2 separate regions of the Homo sapiens genome follow, and region 2 is linked to region 1. Evidence: fine-mapped expression QTL. Tissue or cell type: lymphoblastoid cells. Region 1 holds a variant in brackets; the other region holds the start of a gene. All regions are shown on one strand. Distances are between the middles of the regions.

The links. PIP is the estimated chance that this variant, and not a neighbour inherited with it, causes the effect.
Region 2: SH2B3 starts here. The variant in region 1 is fine-mapped to the expression of SH2B3 in lymphoblastoid cells (GTEx, PIP above 0.99).

Annotation. Positions count from the first base shown.
Region 1 is chr12:111,629,704-111,637,805 of GRCh38, reverse strand. No RefSeq gene overlaps it. Among named protein-coding and RNA genes, the nearest start is that of ATXN2-AS, 34 kb to the right of the region's middle. RefSeq lists an enhancer at 1,784-2,387. The variant C/A (reference allele first, on the strand shown) is at 3,367.
Region 2 is chr12:111,401,591-111,409,692 of GRCh38, reverse strand. It overlaps SH2B3 (SH2B adaptor protein 3), which reads right to left and starts at 3,770. Exons shown (of 8, transcript NM_005475.3): 1 at 3,416-3,770. It overlaps LINC02356 (long intergenic non-protein coding RNA 2356), which reads right to left. Exons shown (of 4, transcript NR_187522.1): 4 at 6,383-6,555. RefSeq lists silencers at 3,432-4,011, 4,132-4,291 and an enhancer at 6,314-6,563.

The DNA.
Region 1 (8,102 bases):
TTTTTTTTGCCCAGAAGAAGCAGCAGGTTCCAGACCAGATTTCCTGGTACATGTGTTTCCTAATTTAAAAAGGAAGAGCCCAGGCTAGGTGCTGTGGCTCACACCTGTCATCCCAACACTCTGGGAGGCCGAGATAAGAGGATCGCTTGAGGCTGGGAGTTCAAGACCAGCCTGGGCAACATAGACCTTGTCTCTACTAAAAATTAAAAACAATTAGCCAGGGGTGGCGCATGCCTGTAGTCCCAGCTACTCAGGAGGCTAAGGCAGGAGGATCTCTGGAGCCCAGGAGTTCGAGCTTGCAGTGAGCTATGATCGCACCACTGCTCTCCCAGCTATATCAACTCCTGGTTCTAATTCTCAATCCCTTGATTATGGCCCAATAGGCAAAAGTTCAGGTTTTCCCTAGAGAACTGGGAGAACTCAAGTCCCCTGTAAAAGAATGAGATGTTTCCGGCCGGGTGCGGTGGCTCATGCCTGTAATCCCAGCACTTTGTGAGGCTGAGGCGGGCGGATCACCTGAGGTCAGGAGTTTGAGACCAGCCTGGCCAACATGGCAAAACCCTGTCTCTACTAAAATACAAAAAATTAGCCGGGCATGATGTCAGGTGCCTGTAATCCCAGCTACTCAGGAGGCTGAGACGGGAAAATCACTTGAACCAGAGAGACGGTGGTTGCAGTGAGCCGAGATCACGCCACTGCACTCCAGCCTGGGCGGCTGAGCGAGACTCTGTCTAAAAAAAATAAATAAATAAAGATGTTTCCACAACTTAAGAAACTCGCCTGTATCAGTTTACATCATTAGCATAATGCTTAGCACTAAAAGGCTTCAGTGCTAACTAAAAAGAAGGGACAGGAATTAATTTTACAGGCACAACAGATTACAGAGAAAGACCTAGAAGTTAAGACATGTAAGCAGAAAATTTTAGGAGGAAAAAGGAGAGTTGCTATCTTGGAAACACTCCAACAGAGAGCAACCAAATTGTGACTTATCACACGCAGCCAGAGGGTCTTCCGGCAGCATTTTTTAGGAATTATCTTTTGTGATAGAAGCAACCTTAGCTGTAGCTGTATTCACTCATATTCTAACTGATCAGTTTCTGCTCATGCAGACACTATGAGCCCAACTGTTTGCAAAAGGGACAGCAAGAGAGGAGCCACGTGGCACTCCCCCACCTCCCCACCCCACCTGTCCTTGGGGAAAAAAATTAAGATCCTCTTTTCAAAATGCCTGCCTCAGGAAAACAGCTTCGTCGCATTTGTTTCCATGCTGCGGAAAATCAACACGAACTGGCTTTGATCCCAAACAGGGCCAACTGCAGGGCACTGAGGATTCCACAGCCAGGAGGAATGCGGAGGCCTCTCCCCCAGCACATTCGACTTCAATTATGTGGGAACACGCCTGGGCCGGGGGCTGATGCCAGAATTATCCTGGCTGAGACGGAGGAGGCCCCGTGCTGTGGCCTAGAATCTTTCCTAAAAGTCCATGCGGGATCTCTCGGTTGCTGCCAATCCTGCACTTTCTCGTTGGCGAGATTCCTGGCTCTGTTTGGCTAGAGTAATGCTACGGCTCACTCCTGTCCTTTTCTTCTCACTGCGGCCCCTCTGCCCCTCACCATTGTCAATCAGAATGCTCCACCGCTTTCAAAAACAGAACAGTCCCCCCAAGAAATCATCCACACCATCCCTTCCTCCTTCTCGGTTAGCTCCGTTATGGCCCACAGGAGAGGGCTGCCTTTTTGGTTAACTCTTTAAAAAGTTTCCTTTTCACCTTCTGACATAACATTCTCGTGGGAAGGGAGGTAAGGGATGCTAATGAGCCTCACTGGATTACCGTTAGCGTGTGTGAACCCAAGTGGACTAGGAAAATCCCAGCAGGACATCCCTATGAGGGGCCTCTTTTCCAGCACTGGTTGTCCTAATCAGGCAAGCCAGAGCGGTAATCTAGAGACCCCAAACCTGTGTTGGATTTTAGTAGGACGTAGAGCCGAGATAGCCCCTTTGCACTTGCTGAGAATGAAAAATGGAAGTAAGCCCTGTCCTGCGGTTTTGATGTGTTTGATTACACTGCTAGCTCACACAACCTACCGCCCAGTCATTGTGCTGAGCACTTGCCTTGTATGTTTCATCCAGTCCTCACAACAATCCTGTCAGGTCCTACGGTGAACCCATTTTACACAGCAAGAAACTAGGGCGCAGTGGAAACAGGATGGGACTCGACCAGCACTGACTGAGGTCACATAGCTGGTAAGTGATAAAGGCCATTCTCTCTCTCTTTTTCTTTTTTTGCAACAGAGTTTTGCTCTTGTCACTCAGGCTGGAGTGCTATGGCGGGATCTCAGCTCACTGCAACCTCTGCCTCCTGGGTTCACGCAGTTCTCCTGCCTCAGCCTCCTGAGTAGCTGGAATTACAGGCACCTGCCACCAGGCCCAGCTAATTATTTTATTTTATTTTTCATAGAGGCAGGGTTTCTCCATCCATGTTGGTCAGGCTGGTCTCAAACTCCTGACCTCAGGTGATCCACCTGTCTTTGCCTCCCAAAGTGCTGGGATTACAGGCGTGAGCCACTGTGCCCAGCCCTCTCACTCTCTTCTTTTTTTTTTTTTTTTTAGAGACAGGGTCTCACTCTTGCCCAGGCTAGAGTGCAGTGGTGTGATCATGGCTCATGGCAGCCTCAACCTCCCTGGACTTAAACGATCCTCCCACCTCAGCCTCCTGAGTAGCTGGGACCACAGGAGCGTGCCACTATGCCCAGCTAACTTTTTCTTATTTTGGGGGTCTCCTATGTTGCCCAGGCTGATCTGGAACTCCTGGGCTCAAGTGGTCCTCCCACCTCAGCCTCCCAAAATGCTGAGATTATACACATAAGCCACTGTGCCCGGCCCTTTTTCTTTTCTTTTCTTTTTTTTTTTTTTAATAAACAAGGTCTCTGTCGCCCAGGCTGGAGTGCAGTGACGCGATCATAGCTCACTGCAGTCTCAAACTCCTGGGCTCAAGTGATCCTCCTGCCTCAGCCTCCTGAGTAGCTGGGACTACAGGTACACCACCATGCCCAGCTAATTTGTTTGTTCTTGTAGACATGGGATCTTGCTATGTTGCCCAGGCTGACCTTGAATTCCAAGTGATCCTCCCACCTCCGCCTCCCAAAGCACTGGGATGACAGTTGCAGTCCACCACACTCAGTCAATTCTCAATCTTGACATCATCTAACCCCAAAACCTGGGCTTATCACCACTCTGCTCTACTATCTCCCCTAACTTTGGGACTTGGGAATGTAAAAGACACAGCTCCTAGTTCGATTTTGTTGTTTTGGGAAAGGAGAGTACTGAGTTGAGGCCACTTTTGTGTGAGTCCAGGGTCCTGAACAT[C/A]CACCCTCTGCCAGCCTTCCCTTTTTTTTTTTTTTTTTTTTGAGAAGGGGTCTCTAGCTCTATTGTCCAGACTGGAGCACAGTGGCACGATCTTGGCTAACTGCAACCTCCACCTCCAGGGTTCAAGCAATTCTCATGCCTCAGTCTCCTGAGAAGCTGGGATTAACAGGCACCCGCCACCACGCCCAGCTAGTTTTTGTATTTTTAGTAGAGATGGGGTTTCACTATCTTGGCCAGGCTGGTCTGGACCTCCTGACCTCAGGTGATCTGCCCACCTCGGCCTCCCAAAGTGCTGGGATTACAGGCGTGAGCCACCAACCCTAGCCTCTTCTCATGGAGTTTTCTAACTTCTCCCTCTCTCCTTTCCCACTTCAATGGGGCGCCTGAGCTGATAAAGAGAAAGGAAGAGGAAAGCCACAGGGTTTCCCCCCACTATACCCAAGGGCTGGCCTTGGGAATTCATTTCAATGGACTGTGCTGGCCCCTTCACCCTGGGGAGCTTGGGGCCCAGCCCACAGCAGCCATTTACACTGACATCTCAGTTCCTTTATCCAGAGCCTCATGGACATTTGCTCCATTGGAAAAGTCGCTTCTGGAACAAGGCTATCCAGGCTCTAAGGTGTTCTCTCTGTAAGAGTGCAGACTCTGCTAGTGCCCCCAGAGGCACAGTCAAAAGGGCATAAACAGGCTAACTGGAAACTGGATATTCTGGAGGGATCGGCTTAATTTGCAGCTTCAATTTATTATAGAACACATGGGGAGAGAGAAAGCCTAGAACAAAAATCTTACAAACTACTAGAGGATATTATAAAGCAGTATTAATTTGGCAGATGTAAATTGGTGCTGTGTGTATGTCTATGTGCAAATGTGTCCAAGAGCTTTTTCTTTGTTTTTTTTTTGAGACGGAGTCTCCTAGGCTAGAGTGCAGTGGTGCAATCTTGGCTCACTGCACGTCTGCCTCCCAGGTTCAAGCAATTCTCCTGCCTCAGCCTCCCAAGTAGCTGCGATTACAGGCTTGCGGCACCACACCGGCTAATTTTTTGTATTTTTAGTAGAGACGGAGTTTCACCATGTTGGCCAGGCTGGTCTCAAACTCTTGGCCTCAAGTGATCTGCCTGCCTCGGCCTCCCAAAGTGCTGCAATTACAGGCATGAGCCACTGTACCCGGCCTTTTAAAAAAATATTATGTAATAACAAGTTTAAGCCAGGCACAGTGGCTCACACCTGTAATTCCAGCACTTTGGGAGGCCAAGGCGGGCAGATCACAAGGTCAGGAGATTGAGACCATCCTGGCCAACATGGTGAAAACCCATCTCTACTAAAAATACAAAAATTATCTGGGCGTGGTGGCGTGCACAAGTAATCCCAGCTACTTGGGAGGCTGAGGCAGGAGAATCACTTGAACCCGGGAGTCGGAGCTTGCGCCACTGCACTCCAGCCTGGCGACAGAGCGAGACTCCGTCTAAAAAAAAGCAAAAAAATTATAAGTTCAATTTATGATCTGATGTTTTGTTTTTTCCTTTTTTGAGACAGTCTTGCTCTGTTGTCCAGGCTGGAGTGCAGTGGCGTGATCTTGGCTCACTGCAACCTCCACCTCCTGGGTTTAAGCGATTCTCCTGTCTCAGCCTCCCAAGTAGCTGGGACTACAGGTGCCTGCCACCACGCCTGGATAATTTTTTTTTTTTTTTTTAGATGGAATCTCGCTCTGTTGCCAGGCTAGAGTGCAGTAGCGCAATCTCAGCTCACTGCAACCTCTGCCTCCCGGGTTCAAGTGATTCTCCTGCCTCAGCCTCCCAAGTAGCTGGGATTACAGGCATGCGCCACCATGCCCAGCTAATTTTTGCATTTTTAGTAGAGATGGGGCTTCACCATGTTGGCCAGGCTGGTCTTGATCTCCTGACCTGGTGATCCACCCACCTTGGCCTCCCAAAGTGCTGGGATTACAGGCATGAGCCACCGTGCCCGGCCTAATTTTTGTATTTTTAGCAGAGGTGGGTTTCATCATGTTGGCCAGGCTGGTCTCGAACTCCTGACCTCAAAGGATCCACCCACCTCATTCTCCCAAAAATCTGGGATTACAGGCGTGAGCCACCACACCCGGCCTATGATCTGATTTAATAGCTATATTTGTGCTACTGAGCTTAGATTTTCACCTACTTCCACTTATCCTACATATATATATATATACATTTTTTTTTTTTTTTTGAGATGGAGTCTCACTCTGTCACCCAGGCTGGAGTGCAGTGGTGTGATCTCGGCTAACTGCAAGCTCTGCCTCCCAGGTTCACACCATTCTCCTGCCTCAGCCTCCCAAGAGGCTGGGACTACAGGCGCCCGCCACCACACCCGGCTAATTTTTTGTATTTTTAGTAGACATGGGGTTTCACTGTGTTAGCCAGGATGGTCTCGATCTCCTGACCTCGTGATCCACCCACCTCGGCCTCCCAAAGTGCTGGGATTACAGGCACAAGCCACCGCACCCAGCCCCTACTTATATATTCTAAATGCTATTAGACAATAGGAAGTACAAAAGTATATTGCTTGTGTGTTTATTTTTTATTGAGATATAATTAACATACAATAGGCCCCACGCAGTGGCCCACACCTGTAATCCCAGCAGTTTGGGATGCCAAGGCAGGCGTATCACCTGAGGTCAACAGTTCAAGACCAGCCTGGCCAAAATGGCAAAATCCCATCTCTACTAAAAATACAAAAAAATTAGGCGTGGTGGTGTGCACCTGTAATCCCAGCTACTTGGGAGGCTGAGGCAGGAGAATTGCTTGAACCTGGGAGGTGGAGGTTGCAGTGAGCAGAGATGGTGCCATTTCACTCCAGCCTGGGCAACAAGAGCAAAACTCTGTCTCAAATAATAATAATAATAATAATAATAATAATAAAAAACATACAATAGAATGCAGATCTTAAGTGCTCAGTTCAAAGAGTTTTGAGAATTGTATATACCCATGTAATCACTACCCAAATCAAGATGTGTAGAATATTTCTATCTCCCCTGTTAAAAAATACAATGTTATATTTTTTAAACAGAAAAACATAAAGAAAATTAAATGGTTATCTCAACAGAGGAAGTTATTAACACTTTAGAGTATGTTTCTTCTGGTATTTTTGTTTGTTTGTTTTGAGACAGGGTCTTGCTCTGTCACTCAGGCTGGAGTGCAGTGGCATGATCACAGCTTACTGCAGCCTCAACCTTCCAAGATCAAGCAATTATTTCACCTTAGCCTCCCAAGTAGCTGGGACTACAGGCACACACCACCACACCCAGCTAATCATCTGGTATTTTCTATGCATATTCTTTTTTTTTTTTTTGAGATAGAGTCTCGCTCTGTCACCCAGGTTGGAGTGCAGTGGCACAATCTCAGCTCATTGCAACCTCTGTCTCCCAGGTTCAAGTGATTCTCCTGCCTCAGCCTCCTGAGTAGCTGGGATTACAGGCACATGCCACCACACACAGCTAACTTTTGTATTTTTAGTAGAGACCGGGTTTCACTATGTTGGGCATGTTGGTCTCCAACTCCTGACCTCAAATGATCTGCCCTCATTGGCCTCCCAAAGTGCTGGGATTACAGGTGTGAGCCACTGTGCCCAGCATGCATATTCTTTTTACATGATTTCTTTATTCTTTCAAAAATTCCTTCAGGGCCTAATAAGTGCTAGACACTGCCTAGGTTCTGGGGATATGGCAATGAAGGCCAAGAGTCCAGGCACTGCCATCCTGAAAAGAAACAAAATTATTAATATATAAAATTTCAGATAATGGTAAATGCCAGGAAAAAAGGTAAAACAGTGTAATTGGGATGGAGGGGAGGGCTGTGTTAGGTAGGATAGTCAGGGAAGGCCACGATGGTAGACTGTGTGCAAAAAATGGCTCACTATTCCCCCCACAATGTGACTCTGCAGCATCTCCACCCCACTGAATCTGGGCTAGTATTGTGACTTGCTTTAGACCACAACTTTTGCTTCAGCAAAAGTGACACTGTGACAGTTTTTTGTTTTCGGTTTTTTTTTGTTTTGTTTTTTTTTTTGAGATGGAGTCCTGCTCTGTCGCCCAGGCTGGAGTGCAGTGGCACAATCTCAGTTTACTGCAGCCTCTGCCTCCCAGGTTCAAACGATTCTCCTGCCTCAGCCTCATGGGAATACAGGCATGTGCTACCATACCCAGCTAATTTTTGTATTTTTAGTAGAGACAGGGTTTCACCATGTTGCCCAGGCTGGTCTCGAACCCCTGGCCTCAAGTGATCTGCCTGCCTCGGCCTCCCAATGTGCTGGGATTACAGGCGTGAGCCACTGCACCCGGCAATACTGTGATAGTTCTGAGCCTCAAGAGGCCTTTTAAAATTCTATTCTGTCTCAAAACCCTGCCCAACCTCTAGGAAAACAAGCCCAGGTTAGTCTGCTGGTGGATGAGAGACCACATGGATGCGAGCCAAGCAAGCCCAGTTATCCCAGCCAAATTCATGAAAAGTACCCAGCAAAGATCTCTGCCTTGATGTTCACATGGCGTTCCCCTGTGTGCATGTGTCTATTCCTTCTTTTAAGACACCAGTCATATTGGGTCAGGATACATCCTAATGACCTTATTTTAACTTGGTTACTTCTGTTAAAAACCCTATCTCCAGCCGGGCACAGTGGCTCACGCCTGTAATCCCAGCACTTTGGGAGGCCAAGGTGGGCATATCACCTGAGGTCGGGAGTTTGAGACCAGCCTGGCCAACATG
Region 2 (8,102 bases), 230 kb after region 1:
TCTCAAGCCCCGGGAAGCTGGGGAGGTGGGGTGCAGGACTCCTGGGTCCAATAAGGCCTGACTCAGCAAGTGACCCCGGCTGAGTCACTTCCCCTGGGCAGCCTGCCCGCCTCAGTTTCCTTGGGAAGGGTGGGTAGTGAGGAATGGGGCCTTGCAGGGAATGAGCAGCTAGCACTGCACCTCTGGACTCGCCGAGGCAGGCGTCTCCGGTCTGCCAGACGGCAGCGGCTTCCTGCCCTGCCTCGTCAAAGATGCTGAACGCCCGCGGGCCCTTGGGGACCGTTTTCCCAGGAAACCTGGCAATTAAGTGCCAGCCCCTATTGGGCATGAACAGCAATGGCTTGCACTTATTGAGTGCCAATTGCATGCCGGGCACTGTGCATGCCTCCTTTTCTCAAAACCACCCTAACAGGGAGTTGGCAACCCCCCTATTTCATAGACAAAAAGACCTGTGGCTCAGAGAGGCTAAGGGACCAGCCCAAGATCACACAGCCAGAGCAAGTACAGCCAACACAGTTCCAGTCCTGACACTGTACTTCACACACCCAACCCTGGGGAGGCTGGAACTCTTGGCTTCCATCGGGCAGGCGAGGTCCAGATCAGAGAAGCCAGGTAACCTGCCTAGGACCTCACACCTGGAAGCTGGCAGAGCCCAGATTTGGCCCCAAAGTCCATACTGCTACCAGGGAGAAGTGGGAATTTAGCAGGAAAAGCCTCTTGTTTTATTAATAGCAATAATATCTACTATTGTTAATTGAGTGCCAGGCTCAGCGCTCAGTGCCTTATGTGCCATGTCACAGCAAGTGCACAGCTGTTAAAGCCTTTCACAGATGTTGTCTCAATTGCCTCAGAGAGCTTAAGTGATCAACCCAAGGATCCCCAGCAATGGGAGACCCTCATGAACACCAGCCCTCAGAAGGGTGTGGGGTCATGTAAACTGGGTCCCAAAGGTGTTTCCAGCAAAAGGAGCTGTATTGGCCCAGACTGTGGGACAGCTCCCTACTATGTCCCTGAGACCCCCTTCACTGACCCTCCCCACCTTGGCTGGGGAGGGCACCCGGTCTCCCCTCACCACAGACAGGTGGCACTGAGACTGGCAGCGAGGAGGTCCCTCCAAGTGCCTCCAGCTCTGCTCCACCTGGGATATGGAGAATGTCTGGGGGTGGCACAGCGGGAGCCAGAAATCCAAGGGCCCAGCAGTCCTGTGGGATCTGATTTGTACTCAAAAGTTCTATTTATCGGAGAAGGAGGATCAGGCCCAGGTTTGAGAGGCATGGGGGTGGGGGTGGGGGGATGAGGAAAGAAAGCCAGCAGAGCTAACACCCACAACAAAAAAGATCATTCCGGCCCCAAGGCTACTTCTTCTCTTCCTCCTGACCAAGCCACTCTGGACACTGTGAATTCACTCATTCATGGTTCCCATGACTCTAGGAAGTAGGTACTATTAGCACACCCATTTCACAGATGAGGAAACTGAGGTGGGGCAGTTAAGCAAGGCCTTATAGCTAAGGAAGTGCCCAGATCTTCAAAATTCTGCTCCCAAAGACCCAGGAAATTCCAGTGCTATGTATGCAAGAGATGCTCAAGGGAGACTACTGAAGGAACACCTCATAGCCAATAACAGTAACACTAATGAAGGCAATGATAAAATCACCACTACCACCACCACCACCTGCAACTGAACCTCTCTTTGCCAGGCAGCAGGTGCTCATTACACACTGGCTCATTAAATCTCCACTGCAAACCTGTTACTCCCCCATTTTACACAGAGGGAAACTGAGGGCAGAGTCACTTGCCCACGCCTTCAGCTGAACGAAGGCAATAGGAGTAGCAAAGCACAGTCTCCAGGACCCTCCTCACTATCCTCCTCCACTTCCTGCTGAGCCCCTGCAGACCCTGAGCCCCCAGCTGCTGATGCTCTGAGCCAGCCCCTTCCCAGCTGGCCGCTCTGTGGCCCACAGGGACTCACAAAAGTTCTAGGAATGCTCACCCTTTGGCTCAGAAGGATTTTCCCTCCCAGAGGGGGTAGTGGGAAAAGGCTCAGGAAAAGTGCACTAAAAACCCTTCCAACTTCCCCCAGTAGGCCCTGGCTCTCATCCTCCGAGCCCAGCCTGCCCAGGTGGCCTCTGACGGCTCTCCCTCCACGAGGGCAGGTCCCGAGGAGCCTCCAGAGCTGTTTCCACTCAGGCAGCCAGGTCAGTGATGGGAAACCCAGACACAACCTGCGCCTGCATCCCTGGAGACCCACAGGCCCACTGCCCTGGCAGGGGCCCTGAGGCCTGGCTGCTAGCCGGTGTTAGGGAACTGTCATCTCCCCGGCGAGGGGCTGCGGGTCAGATCTCGGTCCCTCCTGCCACCAAAGCTGGCCTTGCCGACATTGCCTTGCCGGGGCCTCTGCTCTGAACCCCCCACCAGATTTCACTTCCTCCCACTCAGCCCAGCCTGGCCGTGCCCCTCCCTGGAGGCCCCCAGCTGCAGGCAGTGACCTCCTCACCTACATCATTGTGGCTGGGAATGGGGAAGAGAAACAGGAGAATGAGGAAACTAAAGAAAAAAAGAAGCGGGACAGGCAGGCAGACCCTCCTCTCCAGTTCCTCAAATGCAGTCCCCCTCCCTCAAAACAAAGCTCCCCTGGCCGGAGGGAGGGAAGGGAGGGAAGGGGATTTCTGCACCAGGCATCAGAGACCTCTGAAATACCATCCCTACCGTGCGGATCTAGAAGACCAACACCCACTCCAGACGTTTTTTGGTCGGGGGATTCCCAGGGAACCCCAGGCAAGAGGTGTGAGAGGATCAATACCAGAAACCTGTCTCTGGGACGCCTAGCCCTGGTGAACCGCCCAATTCAGCAGCATGCGGGGGCCTGGCCCGGTCGACCTCGGCAGTGCAGGAACTGGGGAGAGGGGCTTCCTGAATCAGGGCGCTACCCTCTTAGCCACATGGCCCGGAATGGGGAGTGGGGAGGGGCCGGCGCATCCTCCCCCGCTGCCCCCACACCCAAGGGCTCATCTGTGCTCACAGCCTCAGTTTGACTACTTTCACTTTCAGGGTAGCAATGGGTGACCCCTGACCGCTCCTCCCCAGGCACAAGTTGAGGGGAGGGCCGCCCCCAACCGGCGAGGCTACCGTAGGGTGGGCTGGGGGCGTCAGCGATGCCCTCTCCCCCATCCCACGGCCTCAGTTACCCCAACGCTCTCCCTAACACGTGTGTGGGTGGGGGTAGTGGCTGAGTGGGGGGTCGTAGGCGCTGGGAGCCGTCACCCCGGAACGCCTCCATCCGAGTTGGCTGCAGGGCAGTATTTTGGGCTGGGGGTGACGCGCAGAGCCCGGGCAGAACTGGACACGGGGCCTCCTCTTTCCCCACAAAAGCCCTCCCGGCCCCGGAGGAGGGGAGCGCGGGCAAACGCGGGCTCACCTGAGAGACAGGAGCTCTGGGCCCGGCCGGCCCATGGCGTCGCGCGCCCCCGGGCCCTCGAAATCCCGAGGGGGCGGGCGGGCCCCCGCCCTGGGCGCGTCCTCTCCCGCCCGCCGGCTCCTCGCTCGCGGCTCGCTCGAGCGGGGCTCAGGCAGGAAACCCGGGCTCGGAAAATGGCCAGCGCCTCATCATTTCCGCCGCCAGCGCTTGACAGTTGCGGGAGGATGCGCCCCCGGGCCGCCGCCGCCGGGGAAACTTTGCAGCGGCCGCCGTCGCCACCGCGGGCCGCGACAGTCCGGGCGGGCAGCCGGGCGGAGGCGGTGGCCCGGGCCCATGCCGCCCCGCGCCGTTATGTAAAGAGGAACCGGCCGTGCGAGCGGAGCCCGGCGGGGGAGGCCGGCCGCGACAGGGGCGGGGCAGGGGCGGGGCCACCAGGAGCCACGCCTCAGGCCGCGCGCGAGTCGGAGATTCGGCTGGAGGGGCGGGCCATGAGGGCGGAGCCCGGACTGGCCCCGCCTACCAATCCCGCTAGTCCGCGGCTGCCAGGGTCGGAGGGCTCTCCTGGCGCGGGTCCGGAAAAAGGCGAGGCCTTGCGAAGCCACGCCCACCACGTGCCCACCCGATTTCGCGTCCCACAGTCTGAAGATAGAAGTGAGGATCGGAGGGGCGGGGCGACTTTAGCCCCACCCACTCAACGCCGGCAGGTCACCAGGTGCCTCAGCGCCTGGAGGCGGGGCCAGATGAAGGGGCGGGGCCTAGGGCGGGCAGGGTCGAGGGGCCTGGCCTCCAGGGGGCGCGCCCTTGCTGACTCCCTCCTGCAGGGCCTTATCAGTGCCCGCAGGGCTGGGCGGTGCAATAGCGACCACGGCTTTCATCATCGCCCCAGGGAGGGAGCCCAGCCCTGCCCGACCCTGACTATCTGCGATCATGCTGACCCGACCCGCCACGGCCCCAGGCCCCCGATTTGGGTTCTGGCCCCAGCCCTCAGCTTTGCCTTTGCTACAGCCGGTGCCCGTATAGCCCAGCCTCGCTCCGGCCGCCCGTCCTGTCCCCCAATTCTAGGAGGGGTGCATCTTTCTCCAGGAAGCCCTCTCCGACCGCTGGCTTCCGTGGCCTCTGCGCCCACCCCCCTGCCCGCCCCCGGGCTACTTACATTTTCTCCACGGCCTCATGGGGAGCTGAGACGGACAGTGGGGTTCCCCCTAGTCCGGAGTGGGACATGCTCTCAGCCAGCCTCTCCCCCAACATGTGGGAGGGCGGGGAGGGAGGAATGTACTCTTCTCCCCCTCCCCCAACAGGAAACAAGTCGCCCACGCCCCCAGCTTGGAGGGGCCACCTCGAGTCTTCCCAGGCAGCAAGTGTCTCCATTCCACTGCCTCCCCCTCTTCCTACCCGGGCAAATGACTTGACTTCTCCGTACCTCTCCACTTCCTTGCCTATGAAATGGAAATAATGTGTACCCACTCTCCTGGCAGTGAGAATTAAGTGAGTTAATGCATTAAAGCAGTTAGCTCGAGGCTTGGCTCCAGGAAGCTCTCTGTGTTAAACAAATCGGCCCCAGTCCTGACCTTAGAACTACAGGAAGGGGTTCCCCAGAAGGTGGGGATTTCCAGACTCCGAGTAGATGGGGGAAGGGAGCGGTCTGCTACAGGATTCCTGGTGTCCAATGACCTTGAAGAAAAAGGCCACAAAAATCTGCTTTCCGCACATTTCCAGGCACTGTTCTAGGCGCTGGGAACACAGCAGTGAACAACACAGATATCCCTGCCTGCGTGGAGCTGATATTCTAGTGGGGGGACATAAGGCACGAATAAGCAAGTGGGATCAGCTATGACAATGACAAAACAGTTACGGGATGGAGAGCTGGAAGGGGATGTCTTAGATCCAGGGCTCAGGAAGGACACCTCTGCGGAACTAACATGTGAGCTTAGAACCCTCCATGACAAGAAGGATCCAGGTGCTATAACGTCTGAGGGAAGAGCATTCCAGGCCAAAGGAACAGCATGTGCAAAGGTGCTGAGGTGGGAATACATGTGGTGCTTTGGAATAAAGTCATAAAGGCAGTGGTGACACCTATACTGGTAAGAGATGATGTTTCAAAGGTGGGCCCATCACATGGTGTCTTGAAGGTCTTGGTGGGGACTTTGGGAATTATTTTGAAGGCAGTAGGGTGCCATGGAGGGTTGTGAGGAGAAGGACCTGTGGAGTGTGGGATTCAAGCTGTTCACACGGCATCTGAGGATGTGGGAAGAGGGGTGGGGTGGGGGAATGTCAATGAAGTCTAAACGAGGCCGGGTGTAGTGGCTCACACCTGCAATCTCAGCACTTTGGGAGGCTGAGGCCAGCGGATCACCTGAGGTCAGGAGTTTGAGACCAGCCTGGTCAACAGGGTGAAACCCTGTCTCTACTAAAAATACAAAAATTAGCCAGGCATGGTTGCACGCACCTGTAGTCCCAGCTACTGGGGAGGCAGAGGCAGAAGAATCGCTTGAACCTGGGAGGTGGACACTGCAGTGAGCCAAGATTGCATCACTGCACTCGAGCCTGGGAGACAGAGGTAGGCTCTGTCTCTAAAAAAAAAAAAAAAAAAAGTCTGAATGGATCATCCCATATTATTTGATCACTTTCTTATACCTGGGGACACTGCGGCCAAGAGAGAACAGTTACTTGTCTGTAGCCATGCAGCTGCCAGGCAGCACCCACAGAGCAGCCCGGTACCCAGCCAATGCCAAATGGCTGCTGAAATCTGCCAGCCACAAGCACTTTCCCTCTCACTGCCCAGACAGCAGCTCTGCTGACTTAAATTGGGACTTGTGGTTCTTCCCCTTTTTAATCACGGTTCAAACCTTCTCGCCTGCCAGATTTCTCGGAGGCCCAAACTGGTTTCCTTCCTCGCTTAGTCGCTTCTTGCCCACATCCCCGCCAGAGTCCAGTTTTTTGTTTTGGCGCTCGCTGAGACCCCAAGACTTCTCACTTTTTGTGTTTATTTTCCCTTGGAAAGGCAAAGGGATTCCAACAAATAACCTTCCCATCACCGTGCCCAGATTTGAGAGTGCCGCTGCCACGAACACAGCGAGGTCGTCGTCGCCACTGGGAGGCCGGCCAGCCACGGCTCTTCCCACTCGGCAGGTCACTGGGACCTAAGGAGAGAAAGGGTTATTCAAATTCCCATGACTGATCCGTAGCTCCCGGAAACAAGCCAGGCCGTCTTAGGGGAGCAGGTCCAACCGCCCTTCCTTCTTGCTGTGAAAAACACCAACACCTCCTGCTGGCCAAGTTCCAGAAAGCCGGAGACTCACAGGATTAATAACAATTACAGGCCACGCGCGGTGGCTCATGCCTGTAATCCCAGCACTTTGGGAGGCCGAGGCAGGCGGATCACCCAAGGTCGGGAGTTCGAGACCAGCCTGACCAACATGGAGAAACCCCGTCTCTACTAAAAATACAAAATTAGCCAGGTGTGGTGCCGCATGCCTGTAATCCCAGCTACTCAGGAGGCTGAGGCAGGAGAATTGTTTGAACCCGGGAGGTGGAGGTTGCGGTGAGCCGAGATCGTACCATTGCACTCCAGCCTGGGCAACAAGAGTGAAAATCCGTCTCAAAAAAAAAAAAAAAAAATTAAAAAGATAACGATTACAACACGAGTCAACAGCAATAAATTAACAATGATCAATGCTATTAATATTCATATTAGCAATTCGTATTAATAATAATTTAAATAACAACAAAAGTTAACTAGTACAAACACAAATACATGATAAGTGCTTGAGGTGATGGATACCTCATTTACCCTGATGTGATAATTACACATTGCATGCCTGTATCAAAATACCTCACATACTCCATAAATATATACACCTACTATATACTCATAAAAATTCAAAAAGTGGGCCAGGCGCGGTGGCTTAGGCCTGTAATCCCAGCACTTTGGGAGACTGAGGCGGTGGATCACAAAGTCAGGAGTTCAAGACCAGCCAGGCCAATATGGTGAAACCCCATCTCTACTAAAAATACAAAAATTAGCCGGGTGTGGTGGCGGGTGCCAGTAGTCCCAGCTACTCGGGAGGCTGAGGCAGGAGAATCGCTTAAACCCAGGAAGGGGAGGTTGCAGTGAGCTGAGATCACGCGACTGTGCTCCAGCCTGGCAACAACAGAGCGAGACTCCGTCTCCAAAAAAAAAAAAAAGAGTTCTCTGTTCTGTATCTCCTAGCTGTGCAGTCACATAGATTCTCTGGGCCTCAGTTTCCTCATCTGGAAAATGGGGACAGTGACAGGACTGACCCCATTGGGTTGAGGGGGAATTTGATGAGAAAACTCACATTGAGGGCTTAGGAGTGGGGGAGGTACCTCCACATAGCAACGACTGATAAAGAATGTTGAATATAGTGCAGGCTCGGTGGCTCATGCCGGTAATCCCAGCACTTTGGGAGGCTGCAGCAGATGGATCACCTGAGGTCGGGAGTTTGAGACCAGCCTTGTCAACATGGTGAAACCCTGTCTCTACTAAAAATACAAAAATTAACTGGGCGTGCTGGTGGGTGCCTGTAATCCCAGCTACTTGGGAGGCTGACGCAGGGATAATTGCTTGAACCTGGGAGGCGGAGGTTGCAGTGAGCCGAGATTGCACCATTGCACTCCAGCCTGGTGACAAGAGTGAGACTTCGTCTCAAAAAAAAAAAGAATGTGA